2 linked regions of the Homo sapiens genome follow. The protein of the gene in region 1 purifies or fractionates together with the protein of each later gene. This does not show direct contact. Each region holds a gene or a part of one and is shown in the gene's direction. Other genes may lie near its edges.

Evidence for each region.
Region 2: the proteins of COX11 (region 1) and COX19 purify together in Homo sapiens (affinity purification with mass spectrometry; one large-scale study listed by BioGRID and IntAct). This does not show direct contact.

The regions. Positions count from the first base shown.
Region 1 is NC_000017.11:54,962,613-54,965,800, reverse strand, and holds part of COX11 (cytochrome c oxidase assembly protein COX11, mitochondrial), read left to right. Parts: intron 1-948; coding exon 949-1,104; intron 1,105-2,369; coding exon 2,370-2,495; coding exon of another isoform or gene 2,496-2,540; exon of another isoform or gene 2,541-2,880; intron 2,881-2,885; coding exon 2,886-3,068; 3' UTR 3,069-3,188. UniProt on the Homo sapiens protein: Exerts its effect at some terminal stage of cytochrome c oxidase synthesis, probably by being involved in the insertion of the copper B into subunit I.
Region 2 is NC_000007.14:973,147-977,068, reverse strand, and holds the start of COX19 (cytochrome c oxidase assembly protein COX19), read left to right. Parts: upstream 1-1,519; 5' UTR 1,520-1,559; coding exon 1,560-1,641; intron 1,642-3,776; coding exon 3,777-3,888; intron 3,889-3,922. UniProt on the Homo sapiens protein: Required for the transduction of an SCO1-dependent redox signal from the mitochondrion to ATP7A to regulate cellular copper homeostasis. May be required for the assembly of mitochondrial cytochrome c oxidase.

The DNA.
Region 1 (3,188 bases):
GGAGTGCAGTGGTGTGATCTCGGCTCACTGCAACCTCCGCCTCCCGGGTTCAAGCAATTCTTCTGCCTCAGCCTCCCGAGTAGACCTGGGACTACAGGCGCGTGTCACCACACCCGGCTAATTTTTTTCTATTTTTAATAGAGACGGGGGTTCACTGTGTTAGCCAGGATGGTCTCCATCTCCTGACCTCATGATCCGCCCCCCGTGGCTTCCCAAAGTGCTGGGTAAGGGCTTTTTTTAAAAGTGATGTCAAGGAAATAACTGTCATGAATAAAAGAAATGTCAGACATAAATACTCTTGATGCCCTATGATTATTTCTGTGGCCATAGGGATTAGGTGCTCTGATTAGTGATTTATATAAAAGCTCTACTATACAGAGAAGTACAGAAAAGATTCAAAACCATTAACCAACGTGGGAAAATACCTGTGATACCTTAGAAAAGCAGAATGTTAATAAAAGTGAAGCTACAATCTTATTTGGATTATAAAAGCTGTGATATGGAAAAGGACCAGACAGGAATATGGAAAAATTGAGTTAAGTATTTTCAGTGGAATTACAAGGTCATGGGTAAATTTTATTTCTATTAATGAAATACTAGCAATAAAGGGAAATGTGTTTTTTATAAATGGCTAAGCTGGAAATTGTGAGTTCGACTATCAGTGATAATAGTTGACTTATCTAGTGAACCTGCTTTTCCCAGACTCATTTTTGACCATGCCAGGTAACCAAGGGATTGCTGAAAAATAGGAATGACTTTAACAAATACAGGCTCATGACATCCCAAAAGTAGTCAGATTCTTGACACAGTTACAGCAATGGTCAGTTACCATATGTAAACTTGGCTCCAAATGGATTATAAATACTACATTGTTTTTAAACTTTTATCAAATAAATAGATCATCAACACCTAAAAGTATTGTTTAACATATTTGGTATCTTTTTCTAGACTACTGGACTTGGAGGATCAGCAGTTGCAGGTCATGCCTCAGACAAGATTGAAAACATGGTGCCTGTTAAAGATCGAATCATTAAAATTAGCTTTAATGCAGATGTGCATGCAAGTCTCCAGTGGAACTTTAGACCTCAGCAAACAGAAATATATGTAAGTGACTAACCAGTCATTAAAAGATTACTTTATTAATGTAAATTCCTTTCTTTCATCACTTAAACTGTCAGAGGACTAATTTTAACACTATGATTCTAATAAAACATGGCATTTTCCATTGTTCCAAATTGACTTTTACTATCATGTAACTTAAAAGTTAAAGTATAAATTCTGTTACATTAGGTGTAAAGCACTATTAAAAAGTAGTCTATGGGAATAAAAAAATTTATAGTAATGGAACCCGTCAGTATTTTGAAATTAAGTTTAGATGAGTGAAACAGTTGGGAGTAGCAGTAACCGTCAGGCTATATAGCTTCCTGACTTTTCCTCAGGCATAGAAGACATGGGAAAAATGTGGAAAAGCATTGGTTACAATGAGTAGTTTACTGGTTTATATCAAAAGTATCCCTGTCCTTCTAAAAGAAAACAAATTGAGGGCCTTTGAAATAATCAATAAGTAGTAAATAGTTATGTTATACTCCAGTGAGACTGAGACTATACCTAAACGCTTTCCTAAAATTTTAACCAACTGTAAGAAAGATTTTAACTGAAATCTCATTAATTGAGGATTAGCCAGAGTGAGTTAATTTCAACCCATATTGGAAAAGCCTTATAAATATTAGTGCTTGCCCAGTTTAGTAAACATGACTGAATCTCTTAATAAAGATTTTATAGGTTATGATTATGAATCTTCTCCAATTACGTGGTAGTATACAAAGGTATTAGTGGCTGAATTGGTACAAGTGACAGAATATCCTTTGGAAAATTTTTTTAAGCCTCGCTATTCCCTTATTTTCTCCAAAGTATTAACACTTTGTGGCATAATAAAGGTTCTAGTCAGTCAGTTTTATTCTGATTTTAAGGTAAGTTTAATGTTGGTATCTTTTTAAAAAAAATAGTCAATCATGACATTCAGGTATAAGTGTTACAGAAAAGTTGGGCTAGGGCTGTGATATGATTGGCTTGGACACATTTTAAATAATGTAATTTGCCGATTATTCCTTGAAGACCTCAAATATACAAGAGGACAGTTCATAACTAATTATGGATATTAGAACATTGGTTCTTCATTGACATATGCAAGTAAGTTTTTAAACTCAGATATGTTTATGGGTAATATTCACAATTTATTTTGCTGAACCCTACATTAGATTAGGTATTATGGTCTGATGAATAGGCAAAATAATGAGACTAATTTAGCAGGGAAAAGAGGAACTTTGTGAGATTCAAAGTATTGATAATATATATATTCTTTAAAACAGGTGGTGCCAGGAGAGACTGCACTGGCGTTTTACAGAGCTAAGAATCCTACTGACAAACCAGTAATTGGAATTTCTACATACAATATTGTTCCATTTGAAGCTGGACAGTATTTCAATAAAATACAGGTACATCAAAGTGTAAACTTTACAGAATATGATAAAGATACATGAAACGGTTTAGTATGAAACTTAGTGTTTTAGTAGATCTTGTGATTTCTGAAAACGAATTTCTTCTAAACATCAAGCTATTTTTCTTCACTATCTATACCTGCTATGCAGAGATTGAGAACCAAACCAAATGGATATCTGCTTTTAAGATTAGAATTTGTTCTTCATCCTTAAAGCAGAACTCATTGAGATGAAAAGATGCTCTTAATTTATCACAGAACTGTGTATTTAATAGTATGCTTATTAAAATCACGAAGTGTACTGGAATGCTAAGATAAAAGAACTGTATAGTTTCTGTTATGTAATACGAGAATAGAAATGTTATTAAAATCTTTCTATAATTTCCAGTGCTTCTGTTTTGAAGAACAAAGGCTTAATCCCCAAGAGGAAGTAGATATGCCAGTGTTTTTCTACATTGATCCTGAATTTGCTGAAGATCCAAGAATGATTAAAGTTGATCTTATCACTCTTTCTTACACTTTTTTTGAAGCAAAGGAAGGGCACAAGTTGCCAGTTCCAGGATATAATTGAAGTCAGCAACTAAGTCTTCCTTCAAAGTTGTGATTTTTGGGAAAATCATATATCCTATCTTCTCAAAGGAGAAATATTGTACAATAATATGAAGGCTTATATTTTAAATAATTATTTTTT
Region 2 (3,922 bases), on another chromosome or scaffold:
GTGACCTTTGCTTTGGAAATAGGTGCCAGGTGCGGCGGCTCACGCCTGTCATCCCAGCCCTTTGGGAGGCTGAAGTGGGCGGATCACTTAAGGTCAGGAGTTCGAGACCAGCCTGGGCAACATGGTGAAACCCCGTCTCTACGAAAAGTACAAAAAATTAGCCGGGTGTGGTGGCGCATGCCTGTAATCCCAGCTACTCTGGAGGCTGAGGCAGGAGAATCTCTTGAACTCGGGAAGTGGAGGTTGCGGTGAGCCGAGATCGTACCACTGCACGCCCGTCTAGGTTACAAAGTGAGACTCTGTGTTGAAAAAAAATATATTAGCTTAGCTGGGTGTGTTGGTGGCGCCTGTAATCCCAGCTACTCGGGAGGCTGAGGCAGGAGAATTGCTTTAACCTGGGAGGTGGAGGTTGCAATGAGCCAGGATCGAGCCACTGTACTCCAGCCTGGGCAACAAGAGAGAGACTCCGTTTTAAAAAACAAAACAAAGAAATAGGGTTGCTGCTGATATAATTAGTTAAGATGAAGTTATTGGGACGGCCCCTAACCCAACATGACTGCTATCCTTATAAAAAGAGGAAATTTAGGTTGGGCATGGTGGCTCATGCCTATAATCCCGGCATTTAGGGAGGCTGAGGCAGGAGGATTGCCTGAGCCCAGGAGTTAAGGACCAGCCTGGGCAACATAGGGAGACTCCATCTCTACGAAAAATAGAAAAATTAGCCTGGTGTGGTGGTGTGTGCCTGTGGTCGCAGCTACTCAGGAGGCTGGGGTGAGAGGATCGCTGAGCCCAGGAGGTCGAGGCTGCAGTGAGTCGTGATCATGCCACTGCACTCTAGTCTGGGCAACAGAGCAATACCCTGTCTCAAATAAATAAATAAAAATAGTAAATTTGGACATGCGCAGGACACCATGGGAACGTAGGGGCCGAGACCAGGTGGTGCTTCTGCAAGCCAAGGAACCTCACAGGCTGGCGGCCCCCAGAAGCTGGGAGGCTGGGACTGTCCCCAGGGCCCCCACTCTGCCCACTGCTTGGACTCCAGACCCCAGGACTGAGAGCACATTCCTGTTGTTGAAGCTGCTCGGTGGTGTCACCTGGCTCCAGCAGCCGCAGGCAGCGAGTCCACAGGCTCTCCTGTCCCTCCTGTGCCGCCTTCCTCCCCGGATGGGCCCCGTGATGAGGTCTCTGTGCGATGGGGAAACCGAGGCCCCAGCAGACACCTGGGATGCAGAGACGCCGGCACCGCTATGTGTCCTCGGGCAATTCGCTGAACCTTTCTGGGCCTCGGTTTCTCACCAATTCCAAAAGCTGATTCTGCTACCGACTGCTGTGAGGGTCCCAGGGGACGGGAAAGCCCGGGCAGCGCCCACCGGGGCTCAGGAGCTTGCTGACTCCGAGGGGGTGGGGCCGGGCCTGGGCAAGGGGTGGGGCCGGGCCTGGGCAAGGGGCGGGGACGGGGCCTGCTCGACGTGCTCGGCGCTCCCGGGGTGCCTGCTCGGCGCTCCGCCGGCCGCCCTGCGTACGCTCGCAAGGCGCTCGCAGACTCCGGAGTCGCCAACATGTCGACCGCCATGAATTTCGGGACCAAGAGCTTCCAGCCGCGGCCCCCGGACAAGGGCAGCTTCCCGCTGGATCACTTAGGTGAGCGGCGGAAGGTCGGCGGGCAGGGGTCTGCGATGGGGGGTCTGGGTCGCGGCCCAGCGCGGAGCCCTATGGGGTGCCGGCATCTAGCGCGGTGCAGGCGGGGAAACTGAGGCACGGCGGCCCGCCCCTCCGCCCCACCCAGCCCTGGGTCACTGCTGCGGCATGGACCCTGCAGGTGGGAGCTGGCAGGACCGTGGCCCCCGTGACGAGGGCAGCGACACCGACTCCTTGCGTCAGGCTTCCGGGTCTCCGGCTCCGCCCTGACTCACCCGGCGGGCTGTCTGTGCCCCGGGTTTGCAGAGCGGGGCATTCGGCGGCCACGAAGCCCGCAGCTGCAGCCGAGGCTTAGACGGTGCCTAGCGATGTCTGCTGCAAAGCTCAAAAGTGCTGCTGATCTCCCAGTGCTTCTGGCCGTATTCCGGTGGGGTTGCCTCCGTGGACATGAAGGCTTCGAAAAAGGATCTGTGGGCCGGGCGCGGTGGCTCATGCCTGTGATCCCAGCCCTTTGGGAGGCCGAGGTGGGCGGATCATTTAAGATCAGGAGTTCGAGACCAGCCTGCCCAACATGGGGAAACCCCGTCTCTACTAAAAATACAAAAATTAGTTGGGTGTGATGTGGCTCGCCTGTAGTCCCAGCTACTCGGGAGGCTGAGGCAGGAGAATCGCTTGAACCGGGAGACGGAGGTTGCAGTGAGCCGAGATCGGGCCACTGCACTGCAGCTTGGGCGACAGAGTGAGACAACGTCTCAAAAAAAAAAAGAAAGAAAAGAAAAGAAAAACGATCTGTGAATTACTGTTTCTTTCCCAACATTTTATTGTGACATTTTCAAATAGCAAAAATGAAAGAATTTTTACCCTGAACTCTCCTGTGACCATCACCTACATTGCACCTTAACCTCGTACTGGGCTGACTTTACCTCGTTGTGGGTTTTTTCCATTGTTGTTTTCAGCATGTTTATGAAGGAAACAAGTTTGGGTTTGATTGTTTTTGTTTTGAGACACGGTCTCACTCTGTTGCTTAGGCTGGAGTGCAGTGGTGCAATCATAGCTCACTGAAGCCTCGGCCTCCTTCCTTTCTGGACTCAGGGGAGTCTCCCGTCTCATCCTCTAGAGTAGCTGGGACTATAGGTGTGCAGCGCCACACCCAGCTAATTTTTTTTTTTTTTTTTTTTTTAGAGATGGGGTTTCCCCATGTTGCCCAGGCTGGATTATTTATTTATTTATTTTTGAAATGGACTCTCACTGTGTCGCCCAGGCTGGAGTGCAGTGGTGTGATCTCGACTCACTGCAACCTCCTCCTCCCGGGTTCAAGCGATTCTCCTGTCTCAGCCTCTAGAGTAGCTGGGACTATAGGTGTGCAACACCACACCCAGCTAATTATTATTGTTTTTTTATTTTTTATTTTAAAGATGGAGTTTCCCCATGTTGACCAGGCTGGATCATTTATTTATTTATTTTTGAAATGGAGTCTCACTCTGTCACCCAGGCTGGAGTGCAGTGGTGTGATCTCGACTCGCTGCAACCTCCGCTTCCTGGGTTCAAGCAATTCTCCTGCCTCAGCCTCCCGAGTAGCTGGGACTACAGACACCCGCCACCATGCCCGGCTAATTTTTGTATTTTTAATAGAGATGGGGTTTCACCAAGTTGGCCGAGCTGGTCTTGAACTCCTGACCTCAGGTGATCCGCCCACCTCTGCCTCCCAAAGTGCTAGGATTACAGGCGTGAGCCACCGTGCCCAGCCTGGATTATTTTTAGGAGACAAGGTCTTGATCTGTTGCCCAGGCTGGAGTGCAGTGGTGTGATCAAGCTCACTGCAGCCTCGAAATCCTTTGCTCAAGCGATCTTCCTGCCTCAGCCTCCTGAGTAGCTGGAACCACAGACGTGCGCCACACCTAGCTAACTTTTAAGGTTTTTTTTGGTAGAGATGGGGGTCTCACTGTGTTGCCCAGGCTGGTCTCAAACTCCTGGGGTCAGGTGATCCTCTCAGAGTGCTGGGATTACAGGTGTGAACCACTGCGCCCGGCCTGAGGAAACAAGTTTTGAAAGGAAAAGCAGCGCAGCTCTTAAGGCTGTTGTGTGGTTGCATCACTTTTCACTCTGAAAAGAACATGCTGTTTTCTTTCTCGTTCTAGGTGAATGTAAAAGCTTTAAAGAGAAATTCATGAAGTGTCTTCATAACAATAATTTTGAAAATGCTTTGTGCAGAAAGGAATCAAAAGAATATTTAGAATGCAGGATGGAGAGGTGAGTACAGCTAAGCGTTATGATTTCCACCTCC